Linked DNA regions of Homo sapiens. The protein of the gene in region 1 interacts with the protein of each later gene in a pairwise test. Each region holds a gene or a part of one and is shown in the gene's direction. Other genes may lie near its edges.

Evidence for each region. Proteins that work in one complex are often made in the same cells at the same time.
Region 2: the proteins of ERN1 (region 1) and ZNF341 interact in binary tests that used the Homo sapiens proteins (3 or more experiments, as listed by UniProt).
Region 3: the proteins of ERN1 (region 1) and GTF2A1 interact in binary tests that used the Homo sapiens proteins (3 or more experiments, as listed by UniProt).

What each region holds. Positions count from the first base shown.
Region 1 is NC_000017.11:64,050,132-64,057,156, reverse strand, and holds part of ERN1 (serine/threonine-protein kinase/endoribonuclease IRE1 precursor), read left to right. Parts: intron 1-1,208; coding exon 1,209-1,482; intron 1,483-2,328; coding exon 2,329-2,419; intron 2,420-2,717; coding exon 2,718-2,907; intron 2,908-3,785; coding exon 3,786-3,885; intron 3,886-4,177; coding exon 4,178-4,377; intron 4,378-7,025. UniProt on the Homo sapiens protein: Serine/threonine-protein kinase and endoribonuclease that acts as a key sensor for the endoplasmic reticulum unfolded protein response (UPR).
Region 2 is NC_000020.11:33,783,988-33,791,012, forward strand, and holds part of ZNF341 (zinc finger protein 341), read left to right. Parts: intron 1-3,385; exon of another isoform or gene 3,386-3,790; intron 3,791-4,875; coding exon 4,876-4,987; intron 4,988-5,530; coding exon 5,531-5,601; intron 5,602-7,000; coding exon 7,001-7,025. UniProt on the Homo sapiens protein: Transcriptional activator of STAT3 involved in the regulation of immune homeostasis. Also able to activate STAT1 transcription.
Region 3 is NC_000014.9:81,210,943-81,217,967, reverse strand, and holds part of GTF2A1 (transcription initiation factor IIA subunit 1), read left to right. Parts: intron 1-1,453; coding exon 1,454-1,555; intron 1,556-7,025. UniProt on the Homo sapiens protein: TFIIA is a component of the transcription machinery of RNA polymerase II and plays an important role in transcriptional activation. TFIIA in a complex with TBP mediates transcriptional activity.

The sequences.
Region 1 (7,025 bases):
CATTAGAACTTCTGCTGGGGAGAAGAACCAAAAAAAGAAAAAAGAAGCTGCCTGTGAGATCAGCTTGTGTGAAAAAGGCAGTGTGGCCATCCCTTTACTTCCTAGTTGGAAATGAGCAAGTTCTGTAGCAGAACAGGCCATGGGTGGGATGAAATATGTGAGGGGCATGGTCCTTCAGCAGGTTGCTCAGAGCATCGAGATGCTGTTACCTGAGAGCTCAGGAAGCTAATGACCCGCCCAGGAATGGGAATGACAGACTCTTTATGGCACTCCCCACTGGCACGTCTGCACCTGATAGTTTCACTTTTCACCTCACTCAGTCCTATGAGGTCATTATTATTGATCCCTTGTCCACAAAAGAAGGAAGTAGACCCTGAGAAGCTAAGTAACTTTCCCCACGGGTACCCAGCTAGTAGACGGCATTTCTAGGACTCCACCCCATGGTGGAGAGAAGAAGAGACGACTCCCTGGTGGGTTGGTGGCTCACAGAAGTCCCTTCAGTCCACCTCCTGCACATGGGTAGGGATGATCACAGATCGCTGCTACTTCAGATAATGACAGAATGAATCCTTCAGAGTATTTGAGAGGCATGTGGCCTCGGGGAAGGCAGTGGGATGAAAGGCGGAAGCAGGACCTCAGCCAGGCTCACCATGTGTCAGCCCCACTGCCACCTCCTGGCTATGTGTATGCAGATGTACTCTGCATACCTAGAATACTAGAGCTTCCTCACCTGCCCCTCTGGATTACTGAGTGTCTGTGCGCTAGCCTCTAGCCAACACACAGACACGGTGGGTGGCGAACCTGGGGCTTGCTCTCACCCACCACTGGCTCAGCCATGCTACCTGTGCTTCCTGTTTGGTTTCACCTTTGCAACAACTCTCAGACTTTCATGAAAATCACAGAATTTTAGAACTGAATGAAACTGGCACAGCCCTCAACCTAGGGCACAGTCCCTCCCCTGGTGGCCATCCAGCCCCTCCTAGGGTTGGGGAGTGGGCTGTATGAGCAAGGATCTAACTAGTCGGTGGAAAGACGTCCAGTCATCGAAGCAATTCTGCTTCCAGGTGCCTTCTCACTGGTCTCTTTGTGCCCTGTTGGGTCACATAAAGTACACATGCTCCCTCCGCCACTGGGACCTGTCCCTTCCCAGCTGCTTGTTTCCCTGTGGGAACAGCTGCCCTTGTCTGGATGTGGGTTTCTCTTCCCAGAGCATGCATCAGCAGCAGCAGCTCCAGCACCAGCAGTTCCAGAAGGAACTGGAGAAGATCCAGCTCCTGCAGCAGCAGCAGCAGCAGCTGCCCTTCCACCCACCTGGAGACACGGCTCAGGACGGCGAGCTCCTGGACACGTCTGGCCCGTACTCAGAGAGCTCGGGCACCAGCAGCCCCAGCACGTCCCCCAGGGCCTCCAACCACTCGCTCTGCTCCGGCAGCTCTGCCTCCAAGGCTGGCAGCAGCCCCTCCCTGGAACAAGACGATGGAGGTAAAGCCAGTTGCCATCTTGGTGCTATTTTATGTTTTATTCGAGCACCTCCTGAGAAGTCCAAGGAGTCTCCATAAGATTGTAAACTACCATTCTCAGGGGTTCACTGTGTTCTCCTCTAACTTCCACTCTGGGGGTCTCTGTGGGAAGGCTTCTGCCCCATCCCTTGGCATCTCCCCTTCAGAGGGCCTTCTGGGAACCACCCTGGCCATCCTCCTGTCTTTCTCCACAAGGGCTGGGCGTCGCGGCTGACCAGAGGTGAGCTGCCCATTGGGCTGAAGAGAGTTCCCAGGGCCAGCCGGTGGCCAAGTGTGGAAGTGTCACAGTTGGTCTGCTTTCCTCTGTGGAAGTTGGCTCAAGCCAGTTGTCAGAGCCCCAATTCTGAGGGAACTGGCACAGAGCTGGTGCAGGGAACTCAGAGCCCTCTGTCCCAAGGAGTCTCCTCGTTTTACATGTCCATTGCCGCCACCTGAATGCTTCAGTGCGGATCTTTACAGTGGACTTTGTGGTGGTTGTTAACTATTAAACCATTCTAACTATATCACAATGAATATGTATAAGTGTGTGAAACGCTATGGAGAATCCCTGCCTTCCAGAAGGTTTTAAGATATGCAATCGCACAATAAGGTAAAGGCGGAGACAGAATGCAGGGGCAGGGGGAAGAGGCAGTCCTGGGTGTACATGGGGAGTGGGCCTGGCAGGCTCTTGCTGAGCAGCAGTCTGGGGTGCAGTGCCTCTTAAATCCCATCTTTTAATCTGAGGTCAGGAAGCTTGTCACTATGTTAACCTCAAGGTTCTTTAGGTGATATCTGTTTGAAACAATCTCTTTTTCCTATTTTGTCCCAGATGAGGAAACCAGCGTGGTGATAGTTGGGAAAATTTCCTTCTGTCCCAAGGATGTCCTGGGCCATGGAGCTGAGGGCACAATTGTGTACCGGTGAGTGGATTAGCCAGCCCCCTGCCCTCACCGCCTGGTGTCTAAGTGCCTGTCAGGTTGCGAGCCTGGTGCCAGGCTCAGAGCACAGCAGGGTCAAAGCAGTGACCTAGACGCATGGAGTCCGGCCTCCAGGGAGCTTGCACACTGAGACAAGCGATGATTCCGGGGCCACCAGGCAGTCAGGCGGGGCTCTCTAGGCTGGGAGGCAGTAGGTGAATGCTGTGGACCCAGGTTCTCACCTCATTTACACAGCCTGACTCGTGCTTCCCAGACACAACTCCCACTCCTCATCCCGCAGGGGCATGTTTGACAACCGCGACGTGGCCGTGAAGAGGATCCTCCCCGAGTGTTTTAGCTTCGCAGACCGTGAGGTCCAGCTGTTGCGAGAATCGGATGAGCACCCGAACGTGATCCGCTACTTCTGCACGGAGAAGGACCGGCAATTCCAGTACATTGCCATCGAGCTGTGTGCAGCCACCCTGCAAGAGGTGGATTTATTTTTTTTATTTTGTTAACTTTATTAAAGTCATAGCACTTTGGGAGGCCAAAGTGAGCAGATCACGTGAGCTCAGGAGTTTGAGACCAGCCTGGACAACATGGTGAAACCCCATCTCTACAAAGAAACCAAAAATTAGCCAGGCCTAGCGATGTGTTCCTGTAGCCCCAGCTACTTGGGAGGCTGAGGTGGGAAGATTGCTTGAGCCTGGGAGATCAAGGCTGCAGTAAGCAGTGATTGTGCCACTGCACTCCAGCCTGGACAACAGAGTGAGACCCCGTCAAATTAAAAAAAAGTTACAGTGAATTGTACTAATTTTAAATGTAATAGCTTGATGAATTTTGACAAATGTCTATACCCATTTAACCACATACACAGTCAAAATGTGGAGCATTTTTATCCCTCTGGTTGTAACAGGGTGGTCCCCCCAGCATGCCTGGGCAGTCTGCTTGCAGTTGGCATGTCTCTCCCTCTTTGCCTCCAGGAAACCTGGACAGTTGTTCTTTCCCTCTTCAGTCATGGCTGGTGTGGGCTTGGAGGATGCCAGTTGGTAACTCCAGGCTTTAAGATCATCCAGCAAGCTCCTTTTGCTCATTTTCCAGGCTCACTTTGAAACCATATCAGTATCATTTGGATTCCTTTGTAGGTTTACTTATATGAGGCAATGAACTTGAGTTTCTTGCCTTCTTATCTTTCTCATTGTAAATTAGTAGATTTGGAGGTTTGCTCCTTGCTGGAAAACATGGATTTAGACAGAATGTTGTCAGTAAAACTTGCCATTTCTTTCTTAAAATGGTATCAAAGAAAGTGAGCCGAGGGGCCAAGTCCTGAGGACTGTGTGCCGTGACCTTGCTGTCATGTCTTTTGCAGTATGTGGAGCAGAAGGACTTTGCGCATCTCGGCCTGGAGCCCATCACCTTGCTGCAGCAGACCACCTCGGGCCTGGCCCACCTCCACTCCCTCAACATCGGTGAGAGGCTGCACTTTACCAGGCCAGCGGCCCGGGTGGGGAGAATCAGTGGCCCAGGTGGGGCTAACCAGTAGCTCGGGTGGGCCTTGCTTCTGTTCAAGCTCTTGGCTATATCACCAGTAGCAAAGATGAGTGGTGTAAGAATTTGAGGAGGAATCCGACATAGTTGAAAATCAGAACATTTGGAGGTGGCGGCAGGCATATTGGGAGTCTGACGAGGACACATTCCCCATTGGAGGAGGCCTGGGGTTGCTCCTGGTAAGCATTGGACTAATCTGGAGTTCTCTGTTAGTTCACAGAGACCTAAAGCCACACAACATCCTCATATCCATGCCCAATGCACACGGCAAGATCAAGGCCATGATCTCCGACTTTGGCCTCTGCAAGAAGCTGGCAGTGGGCAGACACAGTTTCAGCCGCCGATCTGGGGTGCCTGGCACAGAAGGCTGGATCGCTCCAGAGATGCTGAGCGAAGACTGTAAGGAGAACCCTGTGAGTAATAGGCTATGGCCCTTTGAAAACTACAGAACCAGCCCATTGTATCTTCAGGAGTAGAACCTTTAAATTCCAGGTTTGGGGGCTGGTGCCCGTGTAGCTGGAGAATGGCATTCCTTTCACCAAGAGCTTCTGTGTGAACATTCTGTGTCATCTCATGTTCAGCTGATTAAAGGGGCAAATGTGGGCAATTATCTATTTTTTTTCCCTATTCTTCCAATCACTTGTTTTTTTTTTTTGTTTGGTTGGTTGGCTGTTTTTTTGTTTTTTTTGTGTGACAGAGTCTTACTGTCACCCAGGCTGGAGTGTAGTGGCATGATCTCAGCTCACTGCAATCTCCACCTCCCAGGTTCAAGCGATTCTCCTGCTTCAGCCTCCTGAGTAGCTAGGATTACAGGTACCTGCCACCACACCCAGCTAAATCAATCACTTTTTAACCCCTTTTTAATTTTGGTAAACTGGGAAGTCAGGGCTTGCTTAGCGTGAGCAAACTTCAAGTTTTCATTATTTTTAAAATTTTGTTTTTGTTTTCTCAACTTATTTTGATAATTTTTAGACATAGAGAAAATTAAAAGAAAAAAATTTTTTAGAAGTGCGATCTCGCTATTTTGCCCAGGCTGGTCTTGAACTCCTGGGCTCAGGCTTAGCCTCCCAAAGTGCTGGGATTGCAGACATGAGCCACAGCATCTGGCTGAAAGAATGTTAACATGAATACCTGTGTATCTCCACCTAGATTCAACATTTGTTAATACTTTTGCCACATTTGCTTTATCTTTACCTATTACTGAACCATTTGAATATAAGTAGCAGGCATCCTGGCCCTTCATCCCTGAAGACCTCAGCACGTGTCTCCTAAGGAATACATTGTGTTTCCAACCACAATACCATTATCCCACCTCAACAGTTAATACTGTTTCTATCCATCATCTCATATTCAATCCATATTCAAATTTCCCCAATTAGTCCCCAAATGTCTTTTATAGAGTTGGTATTTTGCTACCTACTGGGTTTTGATACCTACTGGGTTTTATATACCAGGATGGAATCAGGTGTCTTGCGTTACATTTGATTCTGTCTCTTGGAATTTACAAATCTTTCCACCTATATTTTGTTCCATGTTGAAGTTCCATTTTGAAGAGTCCAGGCAGTGGGTTATAGGATGCCCCATTCTGGTTTGTTTGCTTTTTTCCTCATGACAGCGTTGAACATTTCTCTGTATTCCTTGTATTTCCTGGAAACCAGAAGTTAGGTGGAGAGGCTTGATTAGGTTCAAGTTAAATGTTTTTGGCACGAATGTTTTTGGCAGGTCTCTACATCAGAAAGCATGTGATGGCAGATTGTATCTGTAAGATTATTATCACCTCCTCTTAGTGATGCTACAGCTGATCTCTCTACCATAAGGGTTCATTTCCTCCTCTCTTGTTAGTATTTGGGGTGATACTTCAGCACAATGTGAATATCCTGTTTACTGACAGTCACTCACCCAGTGGTTTAGCATGTGTTGATCACCCTTGCCTGAAGTACTCAGTTGAGTAGAAATTCTTCTACATTGTTAGCTGACATTTTTCTGTAAAGCAGAGCTTTCTTTTCACTTTCTTCTCTCTCTCTTTTTTTTTTTTCTTAATCGCTATGGGCTCAAGGATTTTGAAACTAATGTTATAATCCATTTTAGTCCTTTTTTTGTTATTTACTTCTTTTGATACACAAATTGTTCCAAATTTGGCCAACCTGGAAACCCCTTCAAGCTGGCTTCTGCATCCATTTGCTGGGAGCGCACTCACACTTGAGCACCTTATTCTAGCACAAGTCGCCGAGGCTCACCTTGGACACTCCCCGATGGAGACCTGGGTGGGTCAGTCATCTTGAGTGGATTAGATATGGCTGCCTCTTATCCAGCTCACTGGGGACCAGCAGCTGGTCAGATCATCAAAGAAGTCAGTTACAGCGAAGAATCATAAAAACACGCACGCACGCCGTAACACTTAATTTTAACTTAAAGCAAGTAATATTAGCCCTTAAGTCATAGAAATCTTGTGCTGTAGGCTAAGGTCTTTTCAGATTTGGGTCTGACTGACTGGAGTCCTCATTTTCCCCCTTGCATTAAGCACACTTCTGTACCACTTCTGTGACTTCTGCATGGAGGCTTGGACACTTCAAACACTTCCTAAGCGATTTGAGAGCAGAAGCCTGGTTTTTAACGCTTCATGACCCAGTCCCTTACGGTTGAATCCACCACACCAAATGCCGCAGCAGCTCTTGTAACCATTCCCTTTCCTTTATCGAGTCTTTCTAAAGATTCAGCTTACCTCAGACTTCGTGGCACTCATGTTTAACAGCTTATGGAATATCCAAATTACAAGGACAAGTGGCAATAATAAGTTTGGGAAAGAACATAATTGGGGCCAGGCAGGTAGGAAAGATGCCTCTTCACCTTAGTGTTGTCTGTGCTGGGGACAGCAGGCTGCAGAGAGTGTGGGGGGCGTGAAAGACCCAGAGAGCTCTGGGAGTCAGGGGCGAGCTCCAGCTGTGGTGGCCATGTTCCTCCTGTCCCGAATCCAGCACCTTCCTAAGGGAAAATCCAGTGAGGTAGAATAAAGCATGGTAGGTTTGGAGATTGGAAGACCTGAGTCCCATCCTGGTTTATC
Region 2 (7,025 bases), on another chromosome or scaffold:
CCCTCCACTTCTCCATCTCCCTCCCCATCTCACTCAGTCCCTCCCCTCATCTCTCTCAGCCCCCGTCTCCCTCCTCCTCCCCATCTCCCTCCTCCTCCCCATCTCCTTCCTCCTCCCCATCTCCCTCCAGCACCCTTCTCCCTCCTCTTCCCCATTTCCTTTCCCCTCTCCCTCTCCCTACTCCTCTCCCTCCCCCCTCCCTCCGCCTCCTCACCTCCCTCCCTCTCCCCATCTCCTTCCCCCTCCCCCATCTCCCTCCCTCTCTCCATCTCTCTCCCCCCCATCTCCCTCACCCTCCCCATCTCCCTCTTCTTCCCCATCTCCCTGCAGCCCCCTTCTCCCTCCTCCTTCCCATCTCCCTCTAGCCTCCCTTCCCCTCCCTCTCCCCATCTCCTTCTAGCCCCCTCCAGCCTCCCTCCCCTGTCCTCTCCCCTCTCCCTCCAGCCCCCTCCCCCTCCTCTCTGTCGCTGTCTGTCTCCCTCCAGCCCTCCTGCCTCTCCCCTTGCTCCTCCTTCCTCTCTCCTTCCTGGCCCCTGATCCACCTGCCTTAATTCATGAACAAGGGATTCCCACCACCGCTAAAGCAGAGAAGAGCCCCTGGAGGTTGTGTGGAAGGGACTTTTTATTCTTTTTTTTTTTTTCTTTGAGACAAAGTCTCGCTCTTGTTGCCCAGGCTGGAGTGCGGTGGCAGATCTTGGCTCACTGCAACCTCTGCCTCCCGGGTTCAAGTGATTCTCCTGCCTCAGCCTCCTGAGTAGCTGGGATTACAGGCTCCCACCACCATGTCCAGCTAGTTTTTTGTATTTTTAGTAGAAACAGGGTTTTGCCATGTTGGCCAGGCTGGTTTCGAACTCCTGACCTCAGGTGATCCTCCTGCCTCGGCCTCCCAAAGTGCTGGGATGACAGGCGTGAGGCACTGCACCCAGCCTGTGTGAGGGACTCTTGACTCTGCCCCCTGTGGTGGGGACACTGCTCTCACTGTAAGTTCCCACTCAAACCTGAACAAAACGCCATCTCCTTGGTTCCCCAGTTGAAACACACTGACATTTTCTTTTCTATTAATCTTTAGATTTTTTTATTAGTTAAATTTTTTAATTGCTTTTTAATTGAAAAGGATCTAAAGATTGAGAAAACTTGAGGGAAAATCCTTGACGGGACAAAAGCATATATAAAAAAATAAACTCCCTCTCACTTCAGATGGACAATCCAATGTTTTTCCTTTTTTTTCTTTCCTACGACCTATGGTAAAAAATACATTTCATATTGCAACCCAGGAAGCACACATAGGATGTATTGCAACAAAAGTTTTACAAAACAGTGTTTTCTATTTTGTCCTTTTCAATTTTAGTTTTTTTATTTTTTATTTTTATTTTGAGACAGGGTCTCACTCTGTCACCCAGGCTGGAGTGCAATGGTATGATCTCACTACAACCTCCGCCTCCCAGGTTCAAGCCATTCTCGTGCCTCAGCCTCCCGAGTAGCTGGGATTACAGGCGCCCACCACATGCCTGGCTAATTTCTGTATTTTCAGTAGAGACGGGGTTTCACCATGTTGGCCAAGATGGTCTCAAACTCCTGGCCTCAGGTTACCCACCCACCTTGGCCTCTCAAAGTGCTGGGATTACAGATGCAAGCCACCACACCCAGCCTATTTTTAATTCTTAAAATAACCACCAACAGGGTGTAACTTGTGGTTTGCAGTTTGCAAAATACTCCTAATTCTCTTCCCCAAAGGTAACTGTTAGCGGTCTAGTCTGCATTCTTCTAGTTTTATTTTACACATATATAAAACGCTTGCTTACGTTTGCAAAAATGAGCACATACTATAACTTATGTGCCTTTTTTTCCTTATCATATACCTTGGCGATGTTCCCCAAGGAATGTGTGCTTACAGTTCCCCTGGAGGCTAAATTCTGTGGGTCCCCCTCCCCCGGGCCCCCCCCAGAAGTTGTTACCAACAGCACCTTCTTTTTCACATCTGAGTAGTCTTCCTCAATGAATTTTTCATCTTGTATTTAGCCAGTTCTCTATGTATGAACCTTTTTTTTTTTTTTTTTTTTTTTTGAGACTGAATGGCACGATCTTGGTTCACTGCAACCTCTGCCGCCTGAGTTCAAGCAATTCTCCTGCCTTAGCCTTCCAAGTAGCTGGGATTACAGGTGTGCACCATCACGCCCAGCTAATTTTTGTATTTTTAGTAGATATGTGGTTTCACCATGTTGGCCAGGCTGGTCTCGAACTCCTGACCTCAAGTGATCCCCCCGCCCCAGCCTCCCAAAGTGCTGGGATTACAGGCATGAGCCATCACGCCCAGCCTATGTATGAACCGTTAAATTACATTTCAGCTATTAGTTTGTACACACAATGCTGTGTGGGTCCCTTGGCAAGCTTTTGGAAGTGTATCTGTAGTGTATATTCTTAGGAGTGGAAATGCTAGGTTAAAATGCATGTGTAATACTGAGTTTCAGTTTGGGATGATGAAAAAATTCTAGAGACAGATGATGGTGATGGTTGCATGATGGTGCAAATGTACTTATGCCACTGAACTATACACTTAAAAGAAGCTTAAGATGGTCAATTTTCTGTTATGTATATTTCTCCACAATAAAGAAGGGAAAAGAAGTAATGCATTGTAAGTTTGATATTACCAAATTGCTCTTTATGGCTTTTAAAAATTATTATTCAAAAGTAATACATGCTGCCAGGCGCGGTGGCTCATGCCTGTAATCTCAGCACTTTGGAAGGTGAAGGTGGGTGGAGCACCTAGGTCAAGAGTTTGAGACCAGCCTGGCCAACGTGATGAAACCCCGTCTCTACTAAAAATACAAAAATTAGCCGGGTGTGGTGGTACGCACCTGTGATCCCAGCTACTCAGGAGGCTGAGGCAGGAGAATTGCCTGAACCCAGGAGATGGAGGTTGCAGTGAGCCAAGATCAAACCACTGCACTCCAGCCTGGGCAACAGAGCAAGACTCTGTTTCAAAAAAAAAAAAAAAAATACAAAAAACGAAACAAAACAAAACAAAAAAAACCACACAAATAATACATGGTTATTATAAAAATGGAAACAATATAGGAGTACATAAAGTAAAATGTTAAATTTCCCCTTCAAGTTGTAGTTGCCACTGACACTTTGGTCTGTCCTTTCCCTACACCTCCCCATCTTTCTTCCTGCATCTTCAGTTTATTTACAGAGACACATGGCCAGGGCTTTTTTGGGGTGTGCAGGTTGTATTTTTTCTTTCTTTTTTTTTTGTTGGAGCTTACATATCCAGTAGGGATTATATTTTTTTCTAAGAAAGACGAGATTGTGTTAAGCTGTTCTACTGCTTTCTTTCCCCACTAGCAGTATGTCCAGGAGATCTTTCCAGATCAGGAAACACAGATTGACCTTTTTAATCTTTTTAATGACCACAGAGCATTCTATTGTAGGGACCAGCATTTCCGTATCGACTGGGTTGATGGTTTTTCAGAAGTACTTTATTCATTCCAGAGGGAGAACAGAGAGGAAATAATGGCAGGAAGTCACAGCAGCCCAGAAACAGCCCCTTCCAAAGGGCAGGCTGTGACCCCACGGCAACTTTGCAGGCACCTCCCTTGATTTCCTGTGGGTTCCTCAGGTAGCCCATCAGGCAAGAGCTGCCCCAGGACGGGTTTAACAGCAGGAAGATCTGGGTAGCTCAGATGGGCTCTGGATCACGCTGCTGGGCTGGAATCTTAGCTCCCGCAACCATAGGGGTAGCCCCTGAGCCAGTCCCTTCACCTCTCTGAACTTCAGTCTTCTTTCTTATCTGTGAAACAGGGATGATGGGAGTCAGTGCCTCCTGGTTTTTTGGAAGGATTCAGTTAGATAAGGTGTGATTCCTCGTCCCCCAGGGTGGACCGCATTGCCAGAAATGACATGAGGCCACCTTGCTTCTCAGGCCGTGCCTCATCCTTGACTCCTCTCCTCCTCTCACAGTCACAGCCAGTCCAGTGGCAAGGGCTGCCGACTGTGCCTTCCCAACATGGCTGTCCTGGGCCACTTCCTGGTTATCCTCACCTCCACCCTCATTCGAGCTGGTTAAAAGCTTACATCAGAGTCCATCCCTCTGCTGTTCAGACCTTCTGGTGCTTCTCTTCTGGCTCAGAGTAAAAGCCAAAGTCCTGGCTGGGCGCGGTGGCTCATGCCTGTAATCCCAGCACTTTGGGAGGCCAAGGCAGGTGGATCACTTGAGGTCAGGAGTTCGAGACCAGCCTGGCCAACATGGTGAAACCCCCCATCTCTACTAAAAATACAAAAATTAGCTGGGCGTGGTGGCACACACCTGTAATCCCATCTACTCAGGAGGCTGAGGTAGGAGGATTGCTTGAACCCAGAAGGCAGAGGTTGCAGTGACTCACCTGAAATCTTGCCACTGCACTCCAGCCTGGGTGACAGAGCAAGGCTCTGTCTCAAAAAAAATAAATAAATAAAAGCCAAGTCCTTAGCTCTGCCTCCCAGGTCCTCCCATGCGGACCTGGCTGGCTCGCTGCCCTCACCTTCTGCCTTGTTCTCTGGCCACACCAGCCTCCCTGTTGTTCATCAGCACCGCCAAACGCACTCCTGCCTCAGGGCCTTTGTACCTGCTTTCCCTGCTGCCCAGACCATCTCCCTGATGACCTGAGGTCTCTCCTCATGCATGGCCTCATCAGAGAGGCCTCTCCTGACCATCCTGTCAAAATAGCCCTGTCTTGTCTCTGGCAAAACAAAGCCACTGAAGAATGAGAGAGGCTATTTTCTCCCCTGGCCACCTCCCTAGAGGAGCTGCTCCCCTGAGGGGCCCAGCGGGGACCCTTGTGCCCTGGATGCCGACTCCTGGTGAGTGCTGGCTCTCCCTGTCTGTGTCTGCTGCAGGTGAGAAGCCCTACAAATGCTCAGTGTGCGAGTCTGCGTTCAACCGCAAGGACAAACTGAAGAGACACATGTTGATCCACGAGCCCTTCAAGAAATACAAATGCCCTTTCTCGTGAGTAGAGACTGCCATGCAGGGGGGTGGGTAGCGGGACAGATTCTCCAGGGGTGCTGCTGGGGAGGGTGGGACAGATGTCAGGCCTGAGGGCAGGCCTCTCCTTTTTTTTTTTTTTGGAGACATAGTCTCACTCTGTCATCCAGGCTGGAGTGCAGTGGTAAGATCTTGTCTCACTGCAACCTCTGCCTTCTGGGTTCAAGCGATTCTCTTGCCTCGGCTTCCCAAGTAGCTGAGATTACAGATTTAGTAGAGATGGAGTTTCGCCATGTTGCCTAGGCTGGTCTCGAGCTCCTGACCGCAAGTGATCCATCCACCTCGGCCTCCCAAAGTGCTGAGATTACAGGCGTGAGCCACTGTGCCTGGCCAGGCCTCTCTCCTTTTATCCTGTCCTGGGCCCTGCCTGCCTCACTTCCCACCCTACCTCCTTGCCCAGCCCTTAGGGTGGACAAGGCTGTCCCTTGTGCCCAGGGCTAGTGGAGGGGCCAGCAAGAGGATCCTAAGCTTGGTGAGCTCCCCCTGACCAGTGGCTTTGGGTTTTAGGACGCACACAGGCTGCAGTAAGGAGTTCAACCGGCCGGACAAGCTGAAGGCCCACATCCTCTCCCACTCTGGTAAGTGGCTCTTGGGCCTGCTAAGAGGGTCTGGTTCAGCTCTAGTTCACTGGGATAGACCCGCCAGGAAGAGAAAGAGCAGACATATCCTGTGAGGCTTGTTTTCCCTGCCTGGCACATTCCAGCCAGCACTTTCACTTATGTGGGCTATGAGCCAGGCCTGTGTTAGGGACTTAAGGGTGAACAGAGATGAATCAGACACAGTCCCCCAGTCCAAGGAGGAAGCTGACCTGAGCAGAGATGACTCAGTTGGAGCAGTGCCCAGTGTAATAGAGGTGTGGACGAGGTGTGGAGGGAATCAGATTCCAGCCAGGTCCAAGACATGGCCAGGAAGCTTCTTTGATAGGGCAGGGCAGGGGTCTCCAAGCCACTCCTCAGTTTCTCAGCGCCTCCTCAGAGCAGCCTGGCTGGCTTTCCACATGCCAGCCGAGGTCTAAAACAAGGTTCTTCAACCCTGGCACCATTGACAATTTGGGCCAGATAATTTTTTTTTTTTTTTTTTGAGACGGAGCCTCCCTCTGTCACCCAGGTGGAGTGCAGTGGTGTGATCTTGGCTCATTGCAACCTCTGCCTCCCAGGTTCAAGCGATTCTCTTGCCTCAGCTTCCCAAGTAGTTGGGATTACAGGTGCCTGCCACCACACCCAGCTAATTTTTGTATTTTTAGTAGACATGGGGTTTTCACCATGTTGGCTAGGCTGGTGTCGAACTCCTGACCTCAAGTGATCTGCCCGCCTTGGCCTCCCAAGGTGCTGGGATTACAGGTGTGAGCCACCGGCGCCTGGCCTGTAATCCTGTAGATAATTTTGTCCTGGGGGCTGTCCTGTGCCCTGTAGGATTTTTAGCAGTATCCCTGGCTTCTATCTACTGGTGTCAGTGGCATCCCCCCACAGTTGTGACAACCAAAAATGTCTCTAGGCATTGCTGAGTCCTCTGGGGGGTAAAGTCTCCCTTGTTTGAGAAGGTTTACAGAAAGGAGTCAGTCACTAAAGAAAGTGTGAAAACTGGGAGAGTAGGTCAATGACTTGGACACACAGGGCTGGGTTGGAGTCTTAGTGCTGCCATGTTCCTGTGGGTGGCCTCAGGCGTCACGGCCCCTCCCTGAGCCTGAGATGACCTGGCAAAGCGAGCCAAGGTGCAGAGAGTGAGCAGCTGTTCCAGGCAGAGGAGAATGGCAAGTACAAAGGCGCAGAGGGAGGAGCCAGCGTGGCATCTCTGAGGAGAGCGAGTGTGGCTGGCGCAGAGAGTGGCTGGAAGAAGGCAGACGACGAGGGTGGAGAGAGCTGGGGCCAGATCACACAGGTGCTGGTGGGGAAAGAGCCTGGATTTTATTCCCAGCGCAGGGCACTGTTGCGGGGTGAAGGTCTGGATGCTTCTCACTGACTTTCCCTTGCCCTCCAGGCATGAAGCTCCACAAATGCGCCCT
Region 3 (7,025 bases), on another chromosome or scaffold:
TACAGATGAATAAACTTCAAGAGGCGGATTTGGCAAAATAAAGCAGGTTAGTGAGTGAACAGTAAAGCAAGAACCCAGATATTTGAATTGGTTTTCTTGTAATGAGAAGGATTAAATAGTATTTAATGGTTGAGGTAAATTGTATTGACAAACTCATTTGTATTTGTTTGTTTTCTGAGACAGGGTCTGGGCCTGTCACCCAGGCTGGAGGGCAGTGGTGCAATCTTGGCTCACTGCACCCTCTCCCTCCTGGGCTCAAGCCATCCTCCCACCTCAGCCTCCCAAGCAGCTGGGACTACAGGCACGTGCCACCACTCCTGGCTAATTTTTTGTGGAGATTGGGTTTCACTATGTTACCCAGGCTGGTCTTGAACTCTTGAGCTCAAGCGATCCTCCCAAAATTGGTTTTATTTGATAGCGATTAACCTTAAGCAAGGTATGAAACAGAAGTAATGAGAAAACATCTAAAAAGCTTGTTAACCATAACCCTCTGATAATGGGGAGGATTTATAACCAGGCAACTCTAGTTTTGTCAAGGCAGCTCTAGTTTTGTCATCTGACATGACTTCCTTTTGTCTAACAGGTTAAAAATAGGATGTGGGGGAAAAAATAGGATGTGGATTGGGCTAATTGTTCTATCTCCCACTTTGTAGTTTTTAAAAAATATTTTATACTTTTTGAAAGTTCTTTCACATCTATTCTCATTTTACTCATTTTACCATTCAACCTTCTAGAAGCCAGCTTCTTTACTTCCCGCTCCTCCAAGTAGTATCAACGGTGCTAATTGTAATAATAATAGTAAACATTTAGAGGGTTCATGTTCATTATAATGTTTCATAGCATTACCTGGGCAGTAGTAGAGGAGAAATCCTGGGAAGGAAATCAGTATACCTTGTTCCTTGGGACCTTAAGACCTGCCATTGTGAGTGTATGAGTAGTTTAATGGTACAGCTTGAAAGTACAGACTGGGTCACACAACAGAAGTTAGGTGATTTTTAAACCTGAATGTTCATTAGGTTGCAGATTATTACCAGGCAGATGACTCCCGGACATAAGATTCTCCAAAGTCTAAGATACAGTGGTGAGGTAGTAAGACATACAACAGAGTTCAAACCAAGCATGGAATAGTAGAAGCCAGACATAAGCAACCCGTAAAGCTATTATTGAACATTACATTAGGTATTTTGACTACAACATAGGAAATTATAATTGGAAATTGTATGGACCTTGTAGTCTTAGGGGCCTTCTGTTTATGAACTGCATTAATCTTAAAATTTTTATTAAAGTGTGCAGTCATCAAATCCAGTTTATGGCAAATGATGGTGGTCGTATCTTTAAAGTCATATATAGATAGTTGGCAAAATGACTATTCGTTTTGAATTTGTGAAAACCTGTTATACATTATAAGCTGTGAAAAACTGTCTTTTTCAAGTCTTTTATTTTTCCTTTAAAGCCTAAATTATACAGATCTGTGATTGAAGATGTCATTAATGATGTGAGAGACATCTTTCTGGATGATGGAGTGGATGAACAAGTACTGATGGAACTAAAAACTGTGAGTTTGTCTTTTTTTTAAAATATTCCTACTTTTCCCCCACAAAACATTTTCTTTAGCCGGAGATGAATCTGTAATTTTTCTATAGGATGAACGTATAGTTGAGTGAAGTGTGCTGGTTTTAAATCCCAACTCTGCCATGCATTCTTCCTCTGACCTTAGGCAAGCTACATTTATATTTCAGTTTTCTTATACGTAAGATGGAAATTGGTAGTACTTACCTTATAGGTTTGTTTTGAGGATTAAATGGAATAACCATATAAAATCTTAGCACAATGCTTGATAGTAGCATTAGCAGTTATTATTGGATAGTTAACATTCTACATTTTATGGTCTAATTACTTGACATGTCTGGAAGAATTTTGTTGCTTTCTTTTTTCGTTTTTTATTTTTGAGACAGGGTCGGGCTCTGTCGCCCAGGCTGGAGTGCAGTGGCACAATCTGGACTTACTGCAACCTCTGCCTCCCAGACTCAAACCATCCTCCCACCCCTGGGACTACAGGCACATGCCAGCATGCCTGGCTAATTTTTGTATTTTTGGTAGAGATGGTTTTCACCATGTTGTCAAGGCTGCTTTCGAACTCCTGGCTGCAAGTGATCCTCCCGCCTCGGCCTCCCAAAGTGATAGGATTATGGGTGTGAGCCACAGCGCCCAGCCTTAATCTTATCTTTTTTTAATGGTCTTAATGTACCTGTATTCTAAAGTGTGTTTTAAGTTGTAGGGATTAAGTGCTTGATAAAAGAATTTTAGGTTCTTGAAGTAGACCCTTTATGTAGGCCGAATGTTTTGAATATATTTTACATTGAGAGCTGGTTTTCTGTATCTTGGATTCAAGTGGAAATATTTAGATTTTTTTTATTAGCAGTTGTGTTTTCCTTGCATTGTAATGACTCATGAAATTGTGGAATATTTTTGCCCTGTTGATTAGAATAGTGGTTCTCAAGGTATAGTTCATGGAGCCCTGGATTCTCCCCAAGGGTTCTTTCAGGGGGTCCACAAGGTTGACTAAATGCTTAAGTCTGGAAAATCATAGTTTGCCCGTCATTCTTTCAAGTAAAAGTTGTATTCTGTGAGAAAAGTGACCAGTTAAATTCACAATTCAAGTGCACAGGTGCTTTTCCTTGAGATAACTGTAAATAAGCAGCAGAAATGCTTTATGTATACTTCTCATTTCTGACAAACTGAATATTAAAAAGATGAGGACTCAATGTTGATATTAAGAAATTTGATTGTTTGATATTCCGTAATGAAGTGTGTTTACAGTTGAAAGATCCATATAATTCACTGAACTTGTATTTTCTGAATATCCAATGCATAATGTTGGAAAATTCATTCAAAATGCAAGATAAATTAATGGACTTTAAAAGTATGAAAAGTTCACAGTTATATGGTTTCATATTCTGCATTGTAACTAACTATTAAGAAACTGTCACTTAAAAGTACCTTTTCTTTTCCCAACTACTTAATTGTAGGAAGGCAGATTTTCTTTGTACACCTCCACCAAAACAAAGCAAAAACAGGGTCAGATACGAGAATCTAGCTATTTTCCTTTAAGTCATTTGTCATTCTCACTCAATTTTATTTACTAAAATATGGCTATTTTCAGAAAAATGTTATTTATGTTAACATATAATGGATCCATTATTTCTAAACAAATTAGTGAAAATTAAAAATTTGTTATAATTTCTATTAGTATAAATATAGGTGGATGTAATTCACATACAGAAAAGCTCTTTGAGGGTCTCAGTAATTTTTTTTTTTTTTTGAGACGGAGTTTCGCTCTGTCACCCAGGCTGGAGTGCAGTGGTGCTATCTTGGCTCACTGCAAGCTTTGCCTCCCTGGTTCATGCCATTCTCCTGCCTCAGCCTCCCAAGTAGCTGGGACTACAGGCGCCCGCCACGACGCCTGGCTAATTTTTTTGTATTTTTAGTAGAGATGGGGTTTCACCGTGTTAGCCAGGATGGTCTCGATCTCCTGACCTTGTGATCCCCCCACCTCGGCCTCCCAAAGTGCTGGGATTACAGACATGAGCCACCGCTCCCGGCCGGGTCTCAGTAATTTGATAAATCGTCCTGAGATGAAAGAGTTTTAGAACTGCTGGTTTAGAAGTTGATTATTAGGCTCCTTTAAATCTATGTACAAATAAATAATCACAGTTAATAAATGTTAAGGAACATTTGTTGTGGTCTCATCCATTCAGCATAGGTGTCGAGGCTGCAACTTGGCAACCAGTTGCAAATCTTACCTTGATTGCGGTGATGAGGTAGGTCTTGGCGTATTTATTAATAGGTATCTACAGGAAACTTCTCTAGAATTTTCAATAAGAATATTCCTGTGTGAGGAGTTTGAGACCAGCCTGGCCAACATGGTGAAACCCTATGTCTACTAAAAATACAAAAATTAGCTGGGCATGGTGGTGCGTGCCTGTAATCCCAGCTACTGGGGAGGCTGAGGCAGGAGAATGGCTTGAACCCAGGAGGCGGGGGTTGCAGTGAGCCGAGATCATGCCACTACACTGCAGCCTGGGTGACAGATCAAGACTCTGTCTCAAAAAAAAAAAAAACAGAAAAACCCAAAAATATTTCCTGTGTGAGGTAGGAAAAATATATAGGTGTGAAACAGATGAGCAAATATTTATTTACCTTGAGAAAAATTACAGGTTACTAATAGTGAAGAGTAGGTATCTAAAAATACAAGTGTAAGAGTGCTAATTCCGAGACATGAGTTGGAAGAAGAACAATATAAATTGTTCAAGTAGCATGAAGTAACTGAGGGATGTGAATAATAAGAAAACAAGCTTCTTTTGATTCCTTAGTGTAACGTGGAATGAGTTTTTTGCAATTTATGTTATACTTTTATAATGGTTGTCCTTGTAGTTTTGTGACCTTGTATAGAAGATGCAGCATTTTTAGGTGTAGAAAATCAGTTCTAAAGATGTTAGGTAATTTTCTCTAGGTCAAACTAGTGGTCAGTCTAGATTGTTATCTACTCTCGCTTTTCACAATGAAAATCTGGAGAATTTTCCCTATCGTTAATAGTAGAATCAAGACATTCTCTCGAAGAGAATGAGCATCTTTGAGACCAAATGTTTCCACCTCCATTTTTGTTATATATGACTTTTTTAGTACATATTTTATAGGTAACACACTGATTTTTAGTTTAATGGTTAGTTTTTAAATGACAAAAAATGTGACCTACTCAATTTTGAATCCCCAGCTTCTACCACGATGTCTGGGCATATGTGGTTGGCATTCAGTAAGTATTTGATTGAAGTGTTTGATAATAGATACGGCACCTGAATCTAACTGAACAAAATAGTGTAATATTCTTGTTGTTTTTAAATGGGCCATACTCTTCTATCTGGGTTGTATTGGAGTTAAAAATAAAACGGTTAGACTAAAATGAGTTTGTTATTTTAATTCTCTGCACTGAATTTCTTCAGGATCTCATTAGAATTTCTAGAATATGCCCTAGATTTAACAGCTGGACAGCCAGCATTGTCCAATAGAACTTTCTGCAGTGATGAAAGTGTTCTGTACCTGTGCTCTTCAGTATGGTAGCCACTAGCCACATGTGCTTATTAAGCACTCAAAATGTGGTTGGTGGAACTGAGGAACTGAATTTTTATTAATCTAAACTTAAATCACTACATATGGCTAGTTGCTGCCATATTGGACTGCTCAGGTTTAGACATTCTTGCTTAATAAAACGAACTTTAATTTCATATTTTATGGTTTAGAAAGCCTGTCATTAGCTCTAGCCCCTCTCCCTACTTTCTGGGGCCATTTTACAAACTTATCAAAAGCTTGTATAAGGCTGTAAAGGAGGCAGTGGTGAATTAGATTGAGAACAAAGATGAATGATGAGAATGCATGTAATTTGAGGGTTAATGAGGTAAGCAGAAAGGGAGATGATAAGAATATTTCAACCCAATCTTTGAGGTTATCTTTTGAAACACTGCAGGCCTACTTTAATGTGTAAACTGTGAGAGGTAGAAAAAACACAATAAAATACAGCCCTGGTTTTCAGTAAATCTATATTCGAATGTAAATGTGTTTTGGATTGGTGAGTGTCTGTGGGTGGGAATGACACTGTAGAAATTCTCTTCAAAGTGAATGATAAAATCAACCTGATTTCTAGATTTTCCAACCTACCTATGTCCAAATGTCAAGTACTGTGGGAGATATAAAACATTTTCTCTCTTTTTAATAAAACAAATGAGAAGAGTTGCCTCAATTGGAAGTATATCTGAAATTCAGTTTATCTGCCTCTGGTTCAGATTTCTCAACACTGGCATTATTGACATTTTGCACTGGTTAATTCTTTGTTGCAGGGGCTGTCCTATTGATTGTAGAATGTTAGCAGCACAACTGGCCTCTGCCCACTAGATGCCAGTAGCACTCTTCAGTTGTAACCAAAAATGTCTCTAGACATTGCCAGATGTCGCCGGGGGCCAAAATCACCTCTGGCTGAGAACCACTATTCTAAATATACTCTAGTTATATATATATATATATATATATATATATATATAAAGTACTTGATACACTCTAATTATGTGTAAATATTTGGACCATAAGTTGAATAATAATCTACTATTTCATTTCATTTATTCTTAGGGAAAGCTCTGTTTCTACAGCATTATTTCTTGGGAACCTAGAAGTGTAATATATTTTATCCAGGAGCTAGATGTTTTGTGAAAGTAGGAGAATCCTTCAGAATTTCTAGCCCACCATGTTGCCAGGTTTAGCCACCTAACCTCTGGGCTTGTGATGTGACGGGCTGCAGTGAAGGTCTCTGATGTGGCCTGGAGACATTTTCTCCATGGTCTTGGGGATTAACAGTAGGGGAGTGATAAGGGGATTAACTTGGGGAGCAGTAGGTCTCATCACATTTTATAGGTGAGAAAGTAGACTTGGAATGTGCTTTGACAAGGTCGTTTAGCTAATAAATGGTAGAGCCATGAACCTAGCCCTTTTGCCTCTATGTGACATATACAGTACTTAGCAGTAAGCAGGAAGGTAACAGAGTTTTGACTAGATCTTGGGTTGTTGGTGAATGGCACCTGAGATGGTTTTGATGGTCGGTGACCTGCTCTGATAGCAGCAGTCTAGTTTAGAGACTAGGAATTTGGACTAGTACTGGGATTAAAGGGAGGCAAGTGAGGGTCCTGGGGTACAGAATGCAGAGACATTCACTCTCTAGCCCTGACTGGGACATTGAAGTCAGACCACCTGGGTTATATCCCTATTCTGTCTGCCATTAGAGTGATCTTGAATAAGCTACCTAACTTCTTTCTTGTCAGATTCTTTTTCTGTAAAAGGGAGATAATAATGTCTATCTTATAGGATTTTTGTGAAAAAACTAGTTTGTACATGTATTTATAAAGTACACAGAATTTAGTAAGTTTTAGTTATTAGTCAACACAATATACAAATGTATACCTGAATCATTTTGGGAACAGAAG